7 linked regions of the Homo sapiens genome follow. The protein of the gene in region 3 interacts with the protein of the main gene of each other region in a pairwise test. Each region holds a gene or a part of one and is shown on either strand. Other genes may lie near its edges. The genes, in order: VEZF1, POGZ, EIF3F, PRPS1, MKRN2, CASP6 and NUP54.

The links.
Region 1: the proteins of EIF3F (region 3) and VEZF1 interact in binary tests that used the Homo sapiens proteins (3 or more experiments, as listed by UniProt).
Region 2: the proteins of EIF3F (region 3) and POGZ interact in binary tests that used the Homo sapiens proteins (3 or more experiments, as listed by UniProt).
Region 4: the proteins of EIF3F (region 3) and PRPS1 interact in binary tests that used the Homo sapiens proteins (3 or more experiments, as listed by UniProt).
Region 5: the proteins of EIF3F (region 3) and MKRN2 interact in binary tests that used the Homo sapiens proteins (3 or more experiments, as listed by UniProt).
Region 6: the proteins of EIF3F (region 3) and CASP6 interact in binary tests that used the Homo sapiens proteins (3 or more experiments, as listed by UniProt).
Region 7: the proteins of EIF3F (region 3) and NUP54 interact in binary tests that used the Homo sapiens proteins (3 or more experiments, as listed by UniProt).

Annotation. Positions count from the first base shown.
Region 1 is NC_000017.11:57,971,255-57,974,754, forward strand, and holds the end of VEZF1 (vascular endothelial zinc finger 1), read right to left. Parts: coding exon 3,219-3,500; 3' UTR 298-3,218; downstream 1-297. UniProt on the Homo sapiens protein: Possible transcription factor. Specifically binds to the CT/GC-rich region of the interleukin-3 promoter and mediates tax transactivation of IL-3.
Region 2 is NC_000001.11:151,407,495-151,410,994, forward strand, and holds part of POGZ (pogo transposable element with ZNF domain), read right to left. Parts: intron 1,335-3,500; coding exon 1,200-1,334; intron 1,088-1,199; coding exon 915-1,087; intron 747-914; coding exon 606-746; intron 1-605. UniProt on the Homo sapiens protein: Plays a role in mitotic cell cycle progression and is involved in kinetochore assembly and mitotic sister chromatid cohesion.
Region 3 is NC_000011.10:7,997,337-7,999,844, forward strand, and holds part of EIF3F (eukaryotic translation initiation factor 3 subunit F), read left to right. Parts: 3' UTR 1-2,508. UniProt on the Homo sapiens protein: Component of the eukaryotic translation initiation factor 3 (eIF-3) complex, which is required for several steps in the initiation of protein synthesis.
Region 4 is NC_000023.11:107,645,510-107,648,517, forward strand, and holds part of PRPS1 (ribose-phosphate pyrophosphokinase 1), read left to right. Parts: intron 1-2,096; coding exon 2,097-2,256; intron 2,257-3,008. UniProt on the Homo sapiens protein: Catalyzes the synthesis of phosphoribosylpyrophosphate (PRPP) that is essential for nucleotide synthesis.
Region 5 is NC_000003.12:12,570,587-12,574,086, reverse strand, and holds part of MKRN2 (E3 ubiquitin-protein ligase makorin-2), read right to left. Parts: intron 2,019-3,500; coding exon 1,714-2,018; intron 1-1,713. UniProt on the Homo sapiens protein: E3 ubiquitin ligase catalyzing the covalent attachment of ubiquitin moieties onto substrate proteins.
Region 6 is NC_000004.12:109,693,446-109,696,945, forward strand, and holds part of CASP6 (caspase-6 isoform alpha precursor), read right to left. Parts: intron 3,042-3,500; coding exon 2,965-3,041; intron 1,256-2,964; coding exon 1,080-1,255; intron 1-1,079.
Region 7 is NC_000004.12:76,131,398-76,134,897, forward strand, and holds part of NUP54 (nucleoporin p54), read right to left. Parts: intron 2,966-3,500; coding exon 2,778-2,965; intron 1,323-2,777; coding exon 1,126-1,322; intron 1-1,125. UniProt on the Homo sapiens protein: Component of the nuclear pore complex, a complex required for the trafficking across the nuclear membrane.

The sequences.
Region 1 (3,500 bases), on a different chromosome or scaffold from region 3:
TGAGAAGAAATGTTTTAAACCCATCTTCTCTTTTGGGTAGGACAGGGACCTAAACCTGTGGCCACTGCCTCCATCCTAGCTTCCTGGGCCTTACCTGAGCTGCTTGGGAGGGTGCACCTACCAAGGGCAGTCAGTCTGGTGCCCTTCCACCCTCCAACCAGCCTGATACTGGTCCCTCCCTCTCTCTCCAACCCAATACTGAGATGTGCGCACCTGAAAAGAAAGTACTTGAAAAATTCCTCTATTATCAGAGCAAACTGATGAAGCTTCTGAGGTATTAAACAATCCATCATAACATTTGTGACCAGTTAACTTTAATTTTCAAAATAAATCTGCAGTATTTTGCATGTTAGTAATACAGTGCTGGTATTGACAGGTAAAATCATCATCTGCTTACATAGAAACCTTCATTCAGGAGCACACCGTAGGAGGGGAACGGATACACAATAAAAAGCAAACGCAGGCCAAGCAGCGAGCCCTAGAGCGTAACAGGCTGGATGTCAGATTTAAGGATTATCTAATACAACTGTTTAGCTGCCAATCTGATAAAGGGGAAGCTCTCAACCAGGTTACAACCAGAAGGGAAAAACGTACTCTGCCTTTTCGTAGAGCAGTGGCTGTCGTGCCTTCAACACCTGGTTGAATCAGTTCATCAACATCGAAACTCAATTCCAGTTCCAAGACACAGAATTTCATCACACAACCTATTCGGTACCCCTTTTCAGTGGCCCACCCAAAACCCCCTCCTGCCATCGACTCTCTCCCTCCCAAAAGAAGACATGACGTGGCTTTATTATTGCAGACAAGCTTCTTAAGTGAATAAAGAATGCATACAAAATAGTATTTTAACTGAAGTCATACAATGAAGTCTCACTCCTGTTTATTATACAATGAATTGATAAAACAATTACTTCTAGTATATATCTTTTTTTTTTTAGAACTAATACTTTCAGGGTTCTGACAACCACATTCTAGCTTAGGGGTAGGGCCCACACCTGCCCCCACTGAGGACTGCTCCTTGGACCACTGTGGAGGAAGCCTGGGCTGTCTGAATTGTGAATTATGACTGCCAGCCCACCAGAGATAACAGATCCCAGCAGGCAGAGCCAGAACCCAGTTTTGGGTCTGCATGCCAGGAAATGTGAACTTCCTCCAAATGTGGCCACTGTGCCTCCCAATCCAGGCCTCAGCAAGGTCATTCTTGGGCTTTCCCTACACGAGTCCTTCCAGTAGTCCACACATAATGCTCTACATATTAAAAACAAACCATTTTTGTACTGTGGATAAGAACAGTTGTAACAAAGTCATAGCTACATATTTTTCTCTACATTTTGTTTATTGAGACAAACTAATTAAAAGGCACAAACATAGGGCATGTTTACATGGACATTATAACAAACATATACATTAAAAGTGTAGGAATGTGTTGCCTTCCTGCTAAACAGAAAGTTCCTAAGCTTTTATATATACAAAAGTTGTACAATTTAATGTCCTAAAGTACAAAAGATCATTTATAAAATTATTTTACACTAAGTACTATTTATTTTATTTTTTTACTATGTAGTTCAACCCCCTAGAACTGTTTTGTATAATGACACACAGATACCTGTCCCTGATGTAGGAAGTCTGTCTCAGATGCAAGGTATTTTGATGCTTGAACTGACACAGTAGGGTATAAATGGAAATCATCCAGTTTGATAGTCAGTCCTGCAAACATTCTGCAAGATTAACACAACTAATTTCCATTTCTCTTAACTGCAATGATTAAAAAATGAAAAAAACCAAAAACATATTGCAACTTAAAAAATCACAGCATCTTGGTTTAGTTAATTTTTTTTTTAACGCAATGCTTTAAAAACAATGCGTGGCATGATGGTGTAAAGAGTATCTGTTTCCCTAGCTTTTGGTTTCTACTTTATGTACAGAGATAAAATATCTTGCTAAGAAATAAAAAGCACATGTCTCAACGTGCATAATCATTGCTGGGTTTCTACAGGGAATGCAGACAGCTGTCTCCCTGAAAACACCACAAAGCTGATACAAGTGTTTTCTCAAAGAAAAAAAAAGTGATGTCCATATTTACAAAGTTGAACAAATCTGCGCAATACTTAAGAAACGGAAGGAGAAATTTAAAAAAAGATACACTCTGCATGTTCTGAAGGGGCATACACTACCTAGTTAGTGGTTAGAATAAAAACTGTATACAATTTAATATAAGACATAAACTCTAGTGAGCAACTAACACATCTGTCCCTGTTGTAATATCAACAGGCTCTGATTGGGAGAGAGAGGGGCATATCACATCCCAGTGCCTCCAGCGTCTTCCAATTTAAAGCAATATATTTGTACTGTTCCAAAGTACTCCTTGGCTCCTAAATAGGAATCCCACTGGACTCTGTTTATTAGGAGCTTGCCTGTCCACACACTTGACTTCTCCTCTGTCAGTTGAGGCTTTTCTTAGCAAAACACAATTTGTAGATTTTTTTTAAATTTTTTTTTTTTTTAAAAAGTCAACTACAATGCTATATTCCATCGGGATTAATATGCTGAGCAATATTTACATCTCCAAATATCAGGTCACAATCCCTATTATACGTTGAAGTTAGAATGATAAATTATCATATGCTTTGCATATCAGAGCTGGTATCACCTTTCCCATAGGGAATGCTGCCTGAAATTAACATATTCCCAAAGGTAAAATGCATATTCTCTGAAATGCATTTTATTATGACAATGCATGTATTTACTCATAAAAACAATAAACACAGACAATTCTACACTAGCTCTCAATCTGTGGATTTAAAATTTCAGGTTAAAATCAGCCATCCACCTTGTATAGGGAGAAGAGTTCTGCTAGTGTTTACAATAAAGTGATTCCTTGGGATTAGAAATAGTAATGCTGTTTTTTTATTTTGAAGTGGGTTCTACTTATGATTGGTTTTAATTCTGGCATTTCATCTTGCCAACTACTATCCTGTTTAAGCAATGTTGTCAGCTAAAAGGAATTTCTGATTAAACTAAAGTGGTCCAGTGATAAGTTACATACACACCCTACTTTGAATAATCCCAGCCAAATTGGAGAAAAATGCTACCACACTCTTATTAACTAATGTAATAAAATCTCCCAATTTCATGGTTTACTTTTTGCTTTAATCAACTAAAAGTTAAGTTGCTGGTAAATATTTACTTTTACCCATATTTTGATTTTATAATACTGTTTACCAAGGCGGTGATGTAGGCAAAGCTTGGGGCAAGAAAGGCATGCTCTCTACAGGTCTCATTGCTATATTGAGAGGGGCGGCTAATGTCATAGGTGTGGGTAGATTCATTGGAGATGTGATGGTGACAGGGTGTGCTATATTCACTGGGGCAGTGACGGGGGTGGGGAGGTTGACTGGGGTAGTGAGTGTTAAAGGAGAGGTCATGGATAATGGACTGGTTATAGTTACAGGATGCCCTATGTTCATTGGGCTGGTTATGTTAACTGCACTTGAAACATT
Region 2 (3,500 bases), on a different chromosome or scaffold from region 3:
TTCAGTAGGCCTAGGGCGGGGCTGAGAGTCAGCATTTCTAACAAGCTCCCACCTAATACTACTGGTACTTGAATAGCAAGGCCCTATGAAATTAGAGCACAGACCATCAAAACCGAAAAAACAGAGCCTCTCACTCTGCTAGGAGAGAAGAACAAATAGCTCTAAGAGTTGAAGGAGGAAACATATTAGAAGCAGGGGAGAAAATGAAATGAGTGCTCAAGAATCTGGCTGGGGCCGGGCGCAGTGGCTCATGTCTGTAATCCCAGCACTTTAGGGAGGCCGAGGCAGGTGGATCACCTGAGCTCAGGAGTTTGAGACCAGCCTGGCCAACAAGGTGAAACCCCGTCTCTACTAAAAATACAAAAAAATCAGCCAGGCATGGTGGTGCACACCTATAATCCCAGCTACTTGGGAGGCTGAGACAGGAGAATCACTTGAACCCAGGAGGCAGAGGTTGCAGTGAGCCAAGATCATGCTATTGCACTCCAGCCTAGGGGACAGAGTGAGACCCTGTCTTCAAAAAAAAAAAAAAAAAAAGAAGAAGAAGAAGAAGAAAAAAAGAATCTGAACTCTCAAGCTAAAACACTGGTTAAAAACCAACTTACTTGATCATGTGGTTGGCATAAGCTCGAGAACAGCAGGTGCTATAGCGACACAGAGAGCAGTGTACGTAAGTAGGGAAATGATTAGGGAAGTCTGGGATCTCGAAGCTGCACTCCAGGCATGTCTGCCGGCCCATGACACTCCTGTGGGGGAAAAAAAAAAAGAATTCTCATTACTGCCTCATGGGTCCCCAAAATGTAGGATTTTCAGACAACAAACCCTGCTAAAAAGCTACCAGATTGCACTGTGTATCAGGAATAATCCTGGCCACCCAGTCCCCACCCGCCCAGCACTTAGAAGAAGGCGCTGACATTTTCCTAACAGCTCTCTTCTGGATGCTGCGCTGGACAGGGGGATAAAGGAAGACAGGCAGAGGGTCCATTGAGGAGGTCAGCGGTGCTGCCTCCTGCAAGGCGCTGGGAGGTGTATCATTAGAGGATACAGGAACAGTTCGTGGCTGCCCTCGGGAAGCCCGGATTGTCACCTGAGAACCAAGGGAAGTAACAATGAGACATCACCCACACTAAATTTCAGAATACTGAAAATCTCTATTCCTCCCTCCCTGGGCCTATAAAAGACACTGGCAAACTCTTTACCTTGGTGCCTGGTTTCAAGCCCTCCAGCTGCTTGGGTTTACGGAAGGTTTTATGGTGTTGAAGCTTGTGTTCAATTTTGTCCTTGGCAAAGAGAAACTGCAGCCGGCATTTGTTGCAGTGATAAACATTTCTCTTCTGAAGTGGGGGAGGGAAAAAAAGAGACAAAATCCCTTAAAGGTTCCTAATAAATTTTCTTTTTTGAGGAGAAAGCAGATCAATGTCAACCATATCATTCTTCCCACCTTTCTGTTGATAATTTAAGAGAGTAAGAAAGAAATATGCAACATGACCACAAAACCTACCATTGAGAATCATCACCTCCCATGATATCAAAGAAAGATGGATTCTAGTCCAGGATGACTAAGTTCTCAAATCATCCTTTCCTGACTTGTTTTAACAATTTGAATGAGTGATGTAACCTTTATTTGTATTATATCTTTACACTGCTGACAACTGGACATTCTTCTGGACATTCTTCATTCTTCTTTTTTTAAAAAAGGACAATGTACATAGTAAACTAAAGTCATACTTTTTTTTCTATACTCTTCCAACTTTGCTTTCAACTCCAACACTCAGTCCCCTTCCATACAAACAACTTATTACCAGTTTCCTGAGTATGCTTTCGTGGGCAGTCTACACATATAACTGTATCACAAATACATTCATATCCAATCATTACCTGCCTCGCCCCCTTTTTTTGAGACAGGGTCTCTCTCTGTAGCCCAGGCTGGAGTGCAGTGGCATGTTCATAGCTCACTGCACGTCCCAAGTAGCTGGGACTACAGGCACGTGCCACCACGCCCGGCTACTTTTTGTATTTTTTTGTAGAGACGGGGTGTCACCATGTTGCCCAGGCTGGTCTTCAACTCCTGGGTTCAAGTGATCTACCTGCCTTGGCCTCCCAAAGTGTTGGGATTACAGGCGTGCATCACTGTGCCTGGCCCTTACTTTTTTCCCTTTCCTTTTTGTAGAGATGTTGTCTCACCATGTTGCCCAGGCTGGACTCCACCTCCTGGGCTCAAGTGATCCTCCCACCTCAGCCCTCTTCTTTTTCTCCTTTTAACACAAATGATAGCACTTGTCTATACCTTGCTGTTTTCTCACTTAACACATCAGTATATACAGATATGTCTCCTGGTGAGACCACTTTGAGGATTCAGTCTGCCTAGTATTGAAGTCCTTCAAAAATAGAACCCATGTCTATGATTTTCTTTAGTAGGATAACAAAGCTCTGTAAGCTTAGGCTAAGAGACAATTTCCATGCCCCTATTTGGAAATACAGTTGTGGTAGACAATCAGCAGTCACTACTGTGCAAAGGAGACTATGAGTGTAATAGGGTACATATGTTTGTGTGCATATGTATGTGACTATTAAGCACACATGCACTCATCTTATTCTCCATTTTGAATCCTCTCTTATATACTATATACCTTTCACTCTCCTCTAGTGGCTCTCTTCTTGTAGTATTTTAAAACGAAGTCATAGCTTTTCATCTTATAAGGAAAATAAAAGCAATAAAAAACTCTTCTTTGCCACTTCTTCCTCTGGATTTACCTACCCTGGGTCCTCCCTTTTTATAAATAAACTTCTTTAAATACATCGTCTTCATTTCCTTACCTCTCATTCATTTGTTCTGCTGAAATGTGACTTCCACCCTACCAACCAACAAAATGGCTCTCATCAATGTTGCTAAATTAAAGGCCTGTTTCTAAGTCTCTATGTTGCTTGACACCTTCCTGTAACATATGACATTTTGATCACACCCTTTTCTTTAAAACACTTTCTTCTCCCCAGTTTCCTTAAGGTTAAGACTCTTCTGGTTTTCCTCCTAGTACTATGGTGGTTGCTTTATAGATAAGGGACTTCAAATATCCTAAGCCTTCTCTTATTCTCAACAGGGTTGGGGGGCCCATGGTATTTAAGTTTAAAATCTATAGGATTTATATAACGCTGATTCCTAAATCTTTTCTACAACCCAGAGTTCTCTCACAGGCTTGAGATCTATTATCCAACAGCTACACTTGACATCCACAGATACTGCTAACTTACAATATCCAAGCTCATGATCTCCCCCCTCACAAATATACTTTCTCTATTGTTTCTATTTCAGCAAATAGTTCCCTCATTCACCCAACTGCCCAAGACAGAATCTTAGGCACTATTCTTAACTACTGCATTGCTACCTTCACCTAATCCATCTCTACATCATAAATATCACAAATCTTCTGAATATCTCTCAACTCTACCCTCTTTTTATTTCAAAAGCCAATAGCCACTATCATCTCTCACCTAAACTACTG
Region 3 (2,508 bases):
AGTCTTTTTAAGTATGCATGATAAAATTCCGAGGTTAATTGCTAGAAGTATATATAATCTCTCAATGAATAGTGATGAGAGATGGTGGGATAATAGGGAAGAAACAAAATTTTAAATTTGAGAAATAAGCATAGAAAAGGTGGATAAAACAAAAGATGGCAAAACAAGTCCAAATAGATCAGTAATTACAATAAATGTATAAGTATTAAACTAGCCCAAGGAAAAATTGAATATTAAAACAAACCCCAATCATATGCTGTTTACAGGAGACACATCTAAAACAAGGACATAAAGTTGTCCTGCAGCTGTGAGTAACAATATAGGTGAATGTTAATAATAATGTTGAATGAAAAAAGCTGGTGTCAGAAGACATGTACATTATGATACTCCAGAAGTTCAAAAACAAGTGAAACTTGTTTAGACATGCGGTTGGCTGTCTGTATATGTGGGTTCCACATCTATGGACTCAACCAACTACAGGTTGAAAATATTGAGGGGGAAAATTGTGTCTGGACTAAACCTGTACAGACATTTTTCCTTGTCATTTTTCCCTAAACAATACAAAGTATTAGATGGTGTTTATACTGTATTCGGTATTATAAGTAATCTAGAGATGACTTAAAAGTATATGAGAAGGTATGCACAGGTTATATCCAAATACTTCATATTAGGGACTTGAGCATCAGAGGATTTTTATATCCAAGGAAGGTTCTGGAACCAATCCTCCACGGATACTAAACGGTGACTGTGTGTGTATATATATATGTATAGTCTGTTCTCATTATCTATAGTAGTTATGTTTTATAAAGTCACCATGAACACTGAATTAGAGAGTACTGAACCATTATTCCCAAGGGAAATACAGGGTTGGGTTCCTATGAACCTCTGGGCACAGTTTCATCAACCCATCAGTACATAAACTTGTTACATGTGTTTCTGTTTGAAGACACCTTAGTATATATGGTTGACCCATTAACACTGAACTTAGCCCACGACACTTATTCCTGAATGAAGCTTACCTCAGTTTCTCCAGGCGGCACATCACAGTCTTCTTGCACTTAGGAACACTTGGCACTGTGCGTGGGGGTCACTTTAAGCAGCAAAATCCACAAAAATGCAAAAGACATGGCACTAAATAGACTGAAAAGGATACTTGTTTATAAGAACTGAAACAAGAAGGCCTTGTTCCACCTCAGCTGGGAACATGGAGAGCAGGCAATTCAAATTTTTTCACATGCTGCATGTCCGCAAATGGCTGCAAAAGCCCAGCAAGTACTGATACTGGAGTTAGAAATAAATTTTAGCAAGAGGTAAATTCACACATACGGAGTCTGCAAAAAATGAGAATTGACTATTATGTGTGTGTATATTATATATATGATAAAAAACAAAAGAATGATAAAAATTCCCAATAATGTTTACTTTGGTGGTGAGAAGAGGATGGCAAGTAAAATAAGTCTGTATTGTTATCAGCAATTATCTAGTTTGAGGTTGGACAGTGGTTTCATCATAGGTATTGATTATATTATAAATAGCCCAACCTGAACTCATGACCATAGTGTGGTGTTATTACTTAGCGTTATTCTAGACTTATTAGCCATTGTATTTAAACAAGAGGAAATAGAGACATTGAAGATAAAGTGGAGCCAGGCACAGTGGCTCATGCCTGTAATCCCAGCACTTTGGCAGGCTGAGATGGGTTAATCAAGACCAGAAGTTCAAGACCAGCGTGGCCAACATGGCAAAACCCCGTCTCTACTAAAAAAAAACAAAAAATACAAAAATTAGCCAGGCGTGGTGGCACGCACCTGTAGTCCCAGCTACTTGGGAAGCTGAGGCAGGAGAATCTCGAACCCAGGAGGTAGGGGTTGCAGTGAGCTGAGATCGCACCACTGCACCCCAGCCTGGGTGACAGCAAGATCCTTTCTCAAGAAAAAAAGTGAAAAGGAGGAGGGTTTTTAAAAAATTAGTACTACCCAGTTGATACGGTGGAAGAAAACTTGAAAATGCTAATGAGAAACATGAGATGTAATCACTTGAAGGCATATCATGTTCTTGAATAAGAAGACTCAACATTATTTTAACAGGTGTTAATTTTCCCTGTTAAACTACATATTTGTCATAATTACAATAAAATACAAAGAGCTATTTTGGAACTGGGCAAGCTGTTTCTAAATGTATATGGAAAAATAAAAATGTCTCCAAAAAATCCCTGCAGAGGGAAACTAGCCCTTCCAGATATAAAATATATTATAGAACTGTGTAATTAAAGCAATATGGTACTGGTCCATAAAAGAACATAAAACCAAATAGTTCAGTAGACTCAAAATGCAAGCGTTGGTGAGGGTATGGAGAAAAGGGAACCCTTTTACACTTGGTGTGAATGTAAATTAGTACAGACATTGTGGAAAACAGTTTGTAGAGCTTCCTCAATAAAAACACATATGATCCAGCAATCCCACTACTGGGTATATATCCAAAGGAAATGAAATCAGTATGTTGAAGAGA
Region 4 (3,008 bases), on a different chromosome or scaffold from region 3:
TGTTGAGTACTCTTATTTTTTTTTCAGATTTTCTTATTTTTTAAATTTATATTGTACTAAGCTACATATAACACAATTTGCCATTTTAACTATTTTAAGTGTATAATTCCATGACATTAACTATATTCACAATGTTAGACAACCATCGCCTGATCATCAAAGTTTTTTGATCACCCTGAGTATGCTACATGCGATTGTTTTTTGTTTTAATGAGTTAAAATAAAAATCCTGAGCAGACAGGTGTGTGTGCTCATATTTTTATTTTACCTAAGCCGGAACCCTTGGTCTTACTTCTCGACTGTTTTACCGGCTGCTACTTTTGTTCATTATTACTTCTTTTTTTCACTCTAATCCTGTGATAGGTTAATGTTTATATTACTTGTCATCTCTTGCCTGCAGTGTTCTAAATTGCCTCCCCACTCTGTTCTCCATTGCCAGTCACCGTTCTCTCACCTCCCCACTCCATCTCTCCATGCTTGCTAATCTTCCTGCAACTGAGGCTCGATCCCATCACTCTTTAAGATTTTAAGTGGCCCCTCATTACTAACAATCCAAGCCACTATGAGCAGCATTGTTTCTTAGAATGGTATTTTTACTTTTATTTTTATTTTGAGACATGGTCTCACTCTGTTACCCAGGCTGGAGTGTAGTAGTACAATTACGGCTCACTGCAGTCTTGAAATCTTGGGCTCAAGAAATCCTCCTGTCTCAGACTCCCGAGTAGCTGGGACTACAGGCAAGTGCCACCACACTTGGGTAATTATTTATTATTATTATTATTATTTTTGTAGAGAAGGAGTCCCACTATGTTGCCCAGGCTGTCCTTGAACTCCTGGGCTCAAGCAATTCTCCCACCTCAGCCTCCCAAAGTGCTGGGATTTCAGCTGTGAGCCACAGCACCCAGCCCTGAGAATGGTTTTTTTAAACTTTCTTGTGTCTGTGCCTTGCACAGTGCCTGGCACATAATAGGTGCTAAAAAAAAATTGGGGTGAATGATTCTTGGTTTGGGATCCTGGAGTAAACATTCATAAAACCCATTTCATCCTTGTACAAGTACGGGAATACTAGTCGCTATAACAGATCAACTCCCTAACATGATAGTTTCCTTCTTGTCCATGGCACACTCCAATGCAAGTGTTCTTGTTGGACTCATTTTTTCTAAGCAATAGTTAGGAGCTCAGATTCTTTCAATCTTTGGTGCTATATCTTTAACATGGGGTTTCCAAGATTACCTTGGAAGACATTTCAATTTTGGCCAGCCAGAAAAGGAAAAGAACACAGAGGATCACCCCTGGAAGATTTTTGTTAAGTCCAACCAAAAACTGATGTACATTGTGTCTGCCCACATTTTAATAGCCAGAATTAAGCCACATGGCCACACTGAACTATGTGAGGGAGGCTGGGAAATGTAGTTCAGCTATGTGCCCAGAAAGAAGAGGAAGTGGATTTTGTTAAGTGCAACAGTCTATGCCAGAGTCCTTTGACACTAATTCAGACCTATTCAGATAAGTTCTTAGTGCAGTTCTTTCTCGATATGGACTGAATTGTGTCCTCCCCAAATTCATATATGTTGAGGCCTAACCCCAATGTGATGGTATTTGGAGTTACCTTGAGGGGCACGTATTTAGGATTAGATGAGGTCACTAGGGCAGAGCCCTTACAATGGGATGAATGCCCTTATAAGAAGAGAATGCTGGAGAACTGGCCAGCATTTCCCCATGCGCACGCATGCGTGCACACACACTCACACTCACACACAAAGAGGTCATCTGAGCACACAGCAAAGTGGTGGCCACCTACAAGAGAAGAGGCCTCAGCATGACACCTACTTTGTCTGCACCTTGATCTTGGACTTTAAGCCTCCAGAACTGTGAAAAATTTGTTTCTGTTATTTAAGCCACCCATTCTATGGTATTTTCTTTTCCTTAAAAAAATTTTTCCCCTAACCCACTGTGCCTTATAATATTTTTTATTTTTTTATTTTTTTTCATATGATATTTTGTTGTGGAAGCCTAAGCAGGCTAATATACTCCTCCCTGACTAAAATTCTGCAATGACAAGTAAGATGAATCCAAATCAACATTTTTTCCCTCTAGACTTCTCTCAGCTGGCGCCACCAGAGTTTATGCCATCTTGACTCATGGAATCTTCTCCGGTCCTGCTATTTCTCGCATCAACAACGCATGCTTTGAGGCAGTAGTAGTCACCAATACCATACCTCAGGAGGACAAGATGAAGCATTGCTCCAAAATACAGGTGAGGATGAGATTTGTGCAAAACAAGACTTTTCTAAGTGTTTAGGAGGTGGTTACTTACGTTGAATTAGGTCTCTGGATTCTGAAGATATCTTTCTTTGGTCTGAAGGATTTAGTCTTGTCATCAGAATTTGTGATCCAAAAGTTAACAATCACCTGTTTCTTTTCCTTTTTTTTTTTCTTTTCAAACTGCCAAGCCTTGGGAAAATCACCTGTTTAAAAGTTTAAATTGCTACACCTCAGAATCTCTGGAAGATGGAGCCTAAGATTCTACATTTTAACAGGTTCTCCCAGTGATTCTGATGCAAATTAAAGTTTTCAAGTCCATACTTTACAGTATGTGTTTGTCTGTTAACTATCGGCCCCTGTAGATATAATGTGAAACCTTTAAACTGATTGTACACTTCTACCAACTTTAGTGTTTCTCAGTGTGCTCTGGACCTAAGGTTCTTATTAAAATGTAGATTCCTTTGCTCCATCTAAGACCTATAAAACCAGAGGTCCTGGAACCAGTATTTTAAAGTAATTCCCCAAGTAATTGTTAGAAACTAAAGTTTGAGTGCTCTTGCACTAAAAGAACAAGGCCTTGCTTAATTAAAAATGTTCACATTAATCTATGAGCTTTTTGAAATTAATATGTGTAATTGGAGGATTATCATCTTTTTTTTTTTTTTTTTTGAGATAGGATCTTGCTCTGTTGCCCCAGCCGGAGTGCGCAATCAAAGCTCACTGCAGCCTCAACTTTGAAGGCTC
Region 5 (3,500 bases), on a different chromosome or scaffold from region 3:
TTACCTCTTGATTATCTAGGAATACGCTGTCCATTTAAACATGCCTTAGGCCAGGTGCAGTGGCTCACACCTGTAATCCCATTACTCTGGGAGGCCATGGTAAGAGGACTGCTTGATCTCAGGAGTTCAAGACCAGCCTAAGCAACATAGCAAGACCTCACCTCTGAAAAATAAAATAATTTTTTTTTTTTTTTGAGACAGAGTCTCTCTCTGTCGTCCAGGCTGGAGTGCGGTGGTGCAATCTCAGCTCGCTGCAAGCTCCACCTCCTGGGTTCAGACTATTCTCCTGCCTCAGCCTCCCAAGTAGCTGGGACTACAGGCGCCCGCCACCACACCCAGTTAACTTTTTGTATTTTTAGTAGAGACGGGGTTTCACCATGTTAGCCAGGATGGTCTCAATCTCCTGACCTTGTGATCCGCCTGCCTCGTCCTCCCAAAGTGCTGGGATTACAGGCGTGAGCCACTGTGCCCAGCCAAAATAAAATAAAATTTTAAAAGTTAGCCAAGCCACCACACCTGGCATTTTTAAATTTTTTTATTATTATTTTTCTTGAGACAGGGTCTCACTCTTATTGCCCAGGCTGTAGTGCAGTGGCACAATCTTGGCTCACTGCAACCTCTGCTTCCCAGGCTCGGGTGATCCTCCCACCTCAGTCCTGCCGAGTAGCTGGGACTACAGGTGTGCACCACCACACCTGGCTAATGTTTGTATTTTTTTTTTTTTGTAGAGACGGGGATCTTACCATGTTGCCCAGGCTGGTCTCAAACTCCTGGGGTCAAGCAATCTGCCTGCCTTGGCCTGCCAAAGTGCTGGGATTACAGGTGTGAGTCACCATGCCTGGCCCTCCCCCGCCTCTTATCCAGCTTCGTACCCTCTGCATCATGCATAGGGCCTAGCATAAGGCAAAGCCTCCCAAAACACTGCAGACATTAATGACTTTAAAAGGCCCTTCCAACAAGTGGCTCCTCAGATTCTATGATTTGGGCTCAAATCTTCCAAAACTTCACCTAGCTGGATCCCAACCATGAGGAAGTGTGAACCCAGGGAGGGAGGATGCTGTATCTGCATGTGATAGAGACATACACACAGACGACATACCATGGTCCTGAGCTAGATCTGTTCTTTGAACTTAGCATGATTTTATATTTCAGATACGACTTCTTTTTCTCTTTATTCTGAGTAATTAAAAATTGGCAAAATAGGCCGGGCATGGTGGCTCATGCCTGTAATCCCAGCACTTTGGGAGGCCAAGGCAGGCGGACAACTTGAGGTCAGGAGTTCGAGACCAGCCTGGCCAACGTGGTGAAACCCCATCTTTCCTAAAAATACAAAAAGTAGCCGGGTGTGGTGGTGGGCGCCTGTAATCCCAGCTACTCGGTGGGGCTGAGGCAGGAGGATCACCTGAGCCAGGGAAGCAGAGGTTGCAGTGAGCCGAGATTGCACCACTGTACTCCAGCCTGGGTGAGAGGGAGACTCCATTAAAAAAAAAAAATGGCAAAATGACTGCAGGAAAAAGAACCTGAAAACAGGATGTAAATATACCAGATACATAATATGGGTATTACTGGCAGGGGGATGCCTGTGGAAATACCAACAATTCTGTCACTTAGTACATTTCAGATTTCTTGAGTGTATATGGATGGCCTTCCGTGTCCTGTTCAGTACATTTCAGATTTCTTAACATGAGTTCATGCAAAGGTTTGTGACTTTACCTTTTCATGAGCCTTCCTCTGCTCTGGGTCGAATGGGTGCAAGACTTGCAGCCTACAGATTTCACACACCTCCCCGTGCAGGTAGACACAGGCATCCCCAAACCGGCACTCCCCAGCAGCTGCGTAGGGGCACAGCTGCTGCTCGTTGCTGTAGGAGCTGCTGGCCTCCACGTCATCAAGGCCACTCCTGATGGCATCCAGGTAGGAATGCGGCTTCATCTCGGGGCTGGGCTGGGGGTCGCTGCAGCTGCCTGGATTACTCACCATGCTCGGCTGGGTCTTCCTTTCAGCCATGCCAGAGAGATCTGAAAACAACACACAGCACACATGCACATGAAAATGGCCCCATTTTTCTGGTATGCCGTTAGCCAAAGCCTAACATATTAAGCTACTCTGACCTAAGAATTCCACTCTTGAGAACATATGGCAAAAAAAACACACCGAAGGGGAAAAATAAAAGGAATAGTATAAAATGTTCATAGTGACATTACTTATAATTACTTAAAAAAACAAAAAACAAAAAACAAAAATGGCAAGACAGGGAAATAGCAAAACAATAGGATATACTTATACAAAAGAACACTAAAGCCGTTTAAAATGGCAAATATGGAAATGTTAACACATGGACCAGTTAACACTAAAACAAACAAAAAAACAGTGAGAGCACTAGAACACAGTGTTTCCTTCATACCAGCAAAGGTAAAATCATTTTAAGTGAACTAGAATAGATGTCTAGAGCAAATCTGTGGGTCCTGAGGCCAGTGTAAACTGCCCCATGGTCACCCCTTCTCACGCCAGGAGCTGCTGCCTTCCCACTGCACACCTCCGAGCTTGTTTAGAGGTCACGTATTCTCACAGGATTACTCATTTGCTGAGGACAGAATCTGCCTACCTCATGGTAGCCAATTCCAAGAACTAGAAATCTCTTCACCTGGTGAGGACCAGCCAATAAAAACAACTTTTATGGCCAGGTGCAGTGGCTCTTGCCTGTAATCCCAGCACTTTGGGAGGCCGAGGCGGGCGGATCATGAGACCAAGAGTTTGAGACCAGCCTGGCCAACATAGTGAAACACTGTCTCTACTAAAAATACAAAAATTAGCTGGGCATGGTGGTGGGCACCTGTATTCCCAGCTACTCAGAAGGCTGAGGCAAGAGAATCCCTTGAACCCGGGAGGTGGAGATCATGCCACTGCACTGCAGCCTAGGCGACAGAGCGAGTCTCCATCTCCAAAAAAAAAACAAAAACAAAACAAACAAAAAACACAACAAAAAAACTTTTACAATTTGTAGCTTTCTTCCTCATCAAACCCTGTTTTAAGGCACAGACCATGCCCCAAACCCTAGTGTGCTATTCTTTTCCCAAAGGTGCAATCTAAACTGTCAAACACTGTCAGCATAAAAACTAAGACCATTCACTGGCCTAAAAGTCAAACAGTGAAACATGCTCTTTAGCAAAATATTTAGTTTTCTTTTTTTTTTTTTTTTTTTTGAGAGGGAGTCTCACTCTTGTCATCCAGGCTGGAGTGCAGTGGCGTGATCTCAGCTCACTACAATCTTTGCCTCCCGGGTTCAAGAAATTCTCCTGCCTCAGCCTCCCAAGTAGCTGGGATTACAGACACCTGCCACTACACCCGGCTAATTTTTGTATTTTTAGTAGAGACAGGGTTTCTACTAAACCATGTTGGCCAGGCTGGTCTCGAACTCCTGACCTCAGGTGATCCACCCGCCTCAGCCTCCCAAAGTGTTGGGGTTATAGGTGTGAGCCACTTTACCCAGACAAAATATT
Region 6 (3,500 bases), on a different chromosome or scaffold from region 3:
GGGAGGCCAAGGCGGGCAGATCACCTGAGGTCAGGAGTTCAAGACCACACTAGCCAACATGGTGAAACCCCATCTCTATGAAAATACAAAAATTAGCCAGCCATGATGGCAGGTGCCTGTAATCCCAGCTACTCGGGAGGCTGAAGTGGGAGAATAATTGAACCTGGGGGCGGAGGTTGCAGTGAGCCGAGATTGCACCATTGCACTCCAGCCTGGGGGACAGAGCGAGACTCCATCTCAAAAAAAAAAAAAAAATCGTTAATGATGTGCCAAGTAATATTCATGCAAAAAAAAAAATTTTTTTTTTTTTTTAGACAGAGTCTCGCTCTGACGCCCAGGCTGGAGTGCAGTGGTATGCTCTCGGCTAACTACAGCCTCTGCCTCCCAGGTTCAAGCAATTCTCATGCCTCAGCTTCCCGAATGGCTGGGATTACAGGCACCTGCCACCATGCCCAGCTAATTTTTGTATTTTTAGTAGAGACAGGGTTTCACCATGTTTGCCAGGCTGGTCTTGAACTCCTCAGGTGATCTGCCTGCCTCGGCCTCCCAAAGTGCTGGGATTACAGGTGTGAGCCATCACGCCTGTAAAAAATACTTTTATCCCTAAAACCAATTTGGCAGCGGGGAAACAATCTTGGTTTAAGGGGCAATGTGAAAGGGATGAGACAGGATAAGACTAGAAGGCTTTATTTTTCCATTCTTTCCACTGGTTTATATGCTCTCCACCTCCCAAAGAAGCAAACCTAGTCTGATGAGGTTGCCTTGTGCGGCACTCTTCAATCAGCAGGTACGCTTTCCAATGGCTCTCCTTGGTATCAGGCTCGGACAGGGAGTAGCACATTGGTTACTTTGTGAGTCACTTCAAATCTCAATCCAAATGCTGTTATTTTGTAATATAGACAATGAGAGTGTCAAAGAATTATTACTAACAGCTCAAAGTGCAACTATGATTGGCCAGAATTCAAAAACGGCCTGTCCAATTACTGGAGAAAGTTACTTTCAAAACTGGCTTTTAGACCTTTATCACATGTTCAGAATGACAGACTTTATAATTAAGATGATAATGTACTCAGTCTTACCTGAATGATAAATATCTTGGGTTTTCCAACCAGGCTGTGACACTTGTCTCCTTTGAACAAGCCAGTTAATGTCTGAATTTCGATTTTAGCATCATATGCATAAATGTGATTGCCTTCGCCATGGCTCAGGAAGACACACACAAAGCAATCGGCATCTGCGTGGCTAACAGTTGACACTATAAAGGACCCAAAAGAGAATATAGAAATGAAAATATGATGCTTGTTATCTACACATAAAAATTCAGTTTATTAACACAAGAATAAAGTTACATCCACATGATTGGGGAGGAGGAAAATTTGTGGTTTTGTCTTTTTTGTTTTTTTGAGACAGAGTTTCACTCTTGGTGCCCAGGGCTGGAGTGCAGTGGCGCGATCTTGGCTCACTGCAACCTCCACCTCCCGGGTTCAAGCGATTCTCCTGCCTCAGCCTCCCAAGTAGCTGGGATTACAGATTTGAAACCATATCCAGCTAATTTTTGTATTTTTAGTAGAGACGGGGTTTTGCCATGTAGCCAGGCTAGTCTCGAACTCCTGACCTCAGGTGATCCACCTCGCCTCAGCCTCCCAAAGTGCTGGGATTACAGGCATGAGCCACCATGCCCGGCCTACTCTTTAATAAGTGTAAAATATCTGTGATGAAACAACTTAGTCTTTAATCAAACAATATACCGTACTGTATCTTATTTTTTTAAAAAAATCCAAATTTATTAAAGTTCAGAGTAATAGAGTTTGACCAAATTTCATTAGCCTTTCTAAAACACAGAATGATGTGGAAAACATAAAGGGATTACGATAGGGAATCTCACTTAAGATCCAAGTTATTTTGGCAATAAACTAAAAATTTCCTTGAATCAGCAGAGACCTTAGAGCAGAGTGGAAAGACCCAGAAACTGCTGCTCAACAGCTCCCCACGCATTGCTGCACTTTCACTATAGGAATACAGCACTTAGGGCCAGGCGCAGTGGCTCACGCCTGGAATCCCAGCATTTTGGGAGGCCGAGGCAGGTGGATCACTTGAGGCCAGTGTTCAAGACCAGCCTGGCCAACACGGTGAAACCCCATCTCTACTAAAAATACAAAAATTAGCTGGGCATGGGGGCGAGCTACCTGGGAAGCTGAGGCAGGAGAATTGCTTGAACCCAGGAGGTGGAGGCTGCAGTGAGCTGAGATCACACCACTGCACTCCAGCCTGGGGCGGACAGCGAGACTCCATCTCAAAAAAAAAAAAAAAAGATTATAGCACTTAGAGCTTCCAAAAGAGTACTCAAAGCCAGGTGCGGTGCCATGAGACTGATGTCCTCCAAAGCTTCTGAGCAAAGTAGAAAAGCTGGTAAAAGCAGCCAAAGTTAGAATGATGTGCAGTTTAAAGAAGAGCTCTGAAGAAAGTTTAAAGTAATTATGCAAATATAATGGTTGGCATGCAGCGATGATTATAATATAGGTTGTTATAATTAGAATACCTACCCCCTATTGACGCTGTGAGAATTAAAGGAGGTAATGTATGTAAACCAACACTATTTGGAAACCAGTGAGAAAATGAGGCATGAAAGGAGTCAATGAGAAAATGAGCCTGTTGACTGCCCAGCACCTGTAGTACTTGCATTTTAGGCTTTTACTGCCAATTGAAGGGGTCATTTCATTCATTTCTACAAGAGACTGTAACTAGTGGTATGCTAAATATAAACTTTAGAGGCATAATTATTTGCAAGGGTCTCTAAATGTGCTGGGTAACGGAAACACAGCAGCATACCCAAAACCTGTAACCTGTGCTAAATTAATACTTTTTTTGTCACACAAGTAATTACTTGTACCTGTCTTTACAGATAGGATAAAGGACTCGGTTTCATTAGAGGAAGATGAACTATATGATAGCAAAACTACCTACCCTCATGAATTTTGAGCAGTAGTTCTTCTGCTTTAAGATCATTAAAGCATTTCACTTCAAATCCTAGATCTGAAAACCTAGTGGTATATTAAATGAAATGTTAGCCTATAAACTTTTCAAAGTTGTCAAATACCCTTACTTTGGAAGAATCTATACACATTTTAACGACACATAAATTTGCTTTCTTTAGGAGAAAAGAAATGAAATATAACAATGGTGGTTTTCCCTTCATTCACCATGGTCGGAAAGGATTTAATCATAATGACAGCCGATTCAATTTAGAGTGTTGTTGTCTACTATGCAAATGTTAGTACAAATGCAAAAGCCTGTCAACATTTAATAGAACAGAGTAAGGAAAATAACTCAGGCAAGTTTTTTTTTTTTTTTTTTTTTTGAGACAGAGGCTCACTCTGTCGCCCAGGCTGGAGTGCAGTGGCTTGATCTTGGCTCACTGCAAGCTCCGCCTCCTGGCTTCATGCCATTCTCCTGCCTCAGCCTCCCGAGTAGCTGGGACTACAGGCTCCCACCACCACGCC
Region 7 (3,500 bases), on a different chromosome or scaffold from region 3:
ACTGTCAAATATAATCATGGTAAAAATACAAATTTTTGCAGAATAAATAAAGTTCAAAAAAAGCACAGATTGAAAGGAACTATCTATAACCTATAGGATAATAGATTAACCTCCAGAATATAGAAAGAGTTCCTATACATCAAAAAGGAAGACAAAAAAATCTAGAAAATGGGCAAAGGACACAAATAGGTAACTCACAAAAAATATAAATGTAGCTAATAAACATATTAAAAATAAGTATTAATTTTTAAATTAATTATTTTGCCATCAGTGGCCAGAAAAAATAACATTCCTGTTATGAATATAAACGGTAGAACTTTCCCTGGAGGGCAATTTGGCAATATCTAACATACATAATATTGACTCAAAAATTTCATTACCAGAGATCTATTCTAAAGAAATATATACCAATGTGTTCTAAGACATGTTTACAAGGATATTGTTAATTACTGTACAGTTTATAATAGTAAAAAGAAAACAACTTAGAGGTGTTAAGTAAAGGTGTATCCATGGAATACTATGCAATGTTTAAATACAGTAAGATTTATCTTCATGTATTGACATGAAAAGTGCTAAGGAATACTGTAAAAAGGCAAGCTGAAGGTGTATATGGAGAATCCTTTTTTAAAAGATCTACATGTAAATATGCTTACATTTCAAATCACAGATAAAGGATTAAACATAGTACCATAAATTGACAGTAGTTACTTCCGGGGAAAGGAACTAAAGGTAATCTATCACATAGTCAATCTAGTTATGCCATCCAGAATATTTTACAGTTAGAATACATTCAGGTTTTACTTGAATATTCAGTTAAAATGAGATAAGCTAGAAAAAAATAAGCCAAAATTTTACTAGTAAATTACCTTTGGGTAGATGGATTATGGACTATTTTTCTTCAGTTCACTATTTCTCAAAATTTCTATTTTAACATATACATATTAGCTATATAATAAAAAACTAAATGAATACAAATATTCAAAACTATTTCCCAAATAAGTAGATATATGACAAGATGATACTAATTTTATTAGCATTAATAACCAACCAACACCTCTGAAATACGGGGAGTGTTTAGTTCTAAATCTTTCTTTTTTTTTGAACTCTGTGATTCTAGAAACATACCAGCAGGAGGATTCTGTAAAAGCTGTTTGATCTGTGCAGGAGAAAGTTCTGTTCTAGTCATAGAAAGGGTTACACCAAGTTGCTGCAATTGTGTTTTTATATTGGCTTGTTCAAAATGGGCATATAGCGTTGTAGCTGGAACTCTTCTTGAAGTACCATTTGGCGAACGCTCAACAACATAAATAACAACTTCTGTCCTGAAGGAAGAATAACCAATTTATAAAATATGGAGCACAAAACTCATAGCGACAAACCTCAGCATATCATAGCATGTGATTTCAGAAGGGTTTAAGTTGAATTCAGAAATGGTTGTTTTAGGAGGCAATTAAAATGTTTCCTTTTTTTTTTTTTTTGAGCAAGGTTTGCTCTGTTGCCCAGGCTGGAGTGCAGTGGTATCATCACTGCAGCCTCAATGTCCCAGGCTTAAGCAATTCTCCCACCTCAGCCTCCAAGTAACTGAGAGTACAGCTGCACACCCGCTACGTTTAGCTTACATGTATGTGTGTCTATACATAAATATATATGATATATATATATATATATTTTTAAATTTTTTTGAGAGACGGACACTCGCTATGTTGCCTAGGCTAGTCTCAAACTCCTGGTCTCAAGCAATCCTCCCACCTTGACCTCCCAAAGTTCTGGGATTACAGGTATGATGAGCTGCTGTGCCCAACTGTTTTCTTCTTAAATCTTGGAAAATAAGAAAGTTTTACTTCATGTAATGTTCATTTACAAATCAACCTAAATGATAAAGTTAAAAAGAACCAGGTAAATAAGATAGTATTTGTTTTTTTTTTTGAGACGGAGTCTCTCTCTGTCCCTCAGGCTGGAGTTCAGTGGCTCAATCTTGGCTCACTGCAAGCTCCGCCTCCTGGGTTCATGCCACTCTCCTGCCTCAGCCTCCCTCGTAGCTGGGACTACAGGCACCTGCCACCACGCCCGGCTGATTTTTTTTGTATTTTTAGTAGAGACAGGGTTTCACCGTGTCAGCCAGGATGGCCTCGATCTCCTGACCTCATGATCCGCCCGTCTCGGCCTCCCAAAGTGCTGGGATTACAGGCGTGAGCCACCGTGCCCGGCCAATAAGATAATATTTATAAAAGGGTTTGCTTAGTTGCAAAATCCTATGTAAATGTTATTTACTATAGGAAATTCTGTTGAAATTTATGGGCTGCTTCTCTGCAATTACAACCACAAGTAAAATCTGTTCAATTATTGCATCTCATTAATAATCATTCCTCCAAATATCCTAAAATAAATGTCTTGCCACTAACACTGAGAATTATACTTAGGTCAAGGGAAGTAAAGCAATAATATTTATTCATGAATGAACATGAACAGTAATGAGTTAATAACATTTTCCAATAACATCTTTATGGCCCTCAATTTGCACGCATCTATGACAAATGGTCCCTTCCTGGCCTGAATGAAAATCTAGAAAATTATTAGCATCTAGTAAGTTAAAAAATCCAAAATTTTAAAAAAACTTTTAAATAAATGTTTTTATCAATACTGAATAATCACTAGCTGAGAAAAGGCATTCTGCTCTGAGAGTTAATTTGTGCTTTAGCAACAAAAACATTATTGATCACTCCCTTAGGACCAGAAATAAATACACAGAAATAAACAGTATATTTATGTATACTTACTGATCATCTGGCAATGTTTTAGTGCCCTCTACATTTACAGTAAGGGTCTGGTTTCCTCCCAAAACTTTATGCAATGATTCTACCAACTGTTGTTGTTGGCTTCGAATCTCTGTTTCTTTTTTGTTGAAAACTAAAACCACTAGCCCATCTTCATCTTTATTACTGGGCATGCAACTATAACCTACTGCCTGTGGAATGACAAAATAAACAATATAAAAAATATGTACAGATCTTAAATCAGGTGTTTAATATTAATAGCTTAATATCTGCTAAAATGGGAAAAACAACTTAATGTCTGGTAATTAAGGGAATAATGATTCTTCCCACCATTTTGTGCCCTAGGAGGTCACAAAATTATAAAGAAAAACTATTTTACCCAGGAATAACATTAACCTATAGAGTAAGATTAACATTTCCTCTTTGAGAGAGTAACTAAACAGCTTTCTCCCCTAAAAAATTTTGATATTCATTATTGTTGGTTGTTTCTGAACCATCTGCATGTCATTATAAAAGTGACTGCAAAAATCACCAACTAATTATAATTTATTTCACTATACAGATTCTCAACTTATGATTTTTCCATTTTATAGGGTGTGAAAGCAATACGCATTCATATATACATACATGTAAACCATACATGGAATTCTGATCTTTTAGTTTTTATTATAAAATTATTATTATTATAAGATGGACTTGATGTTAGATTATTCTGCCCAATTGTAC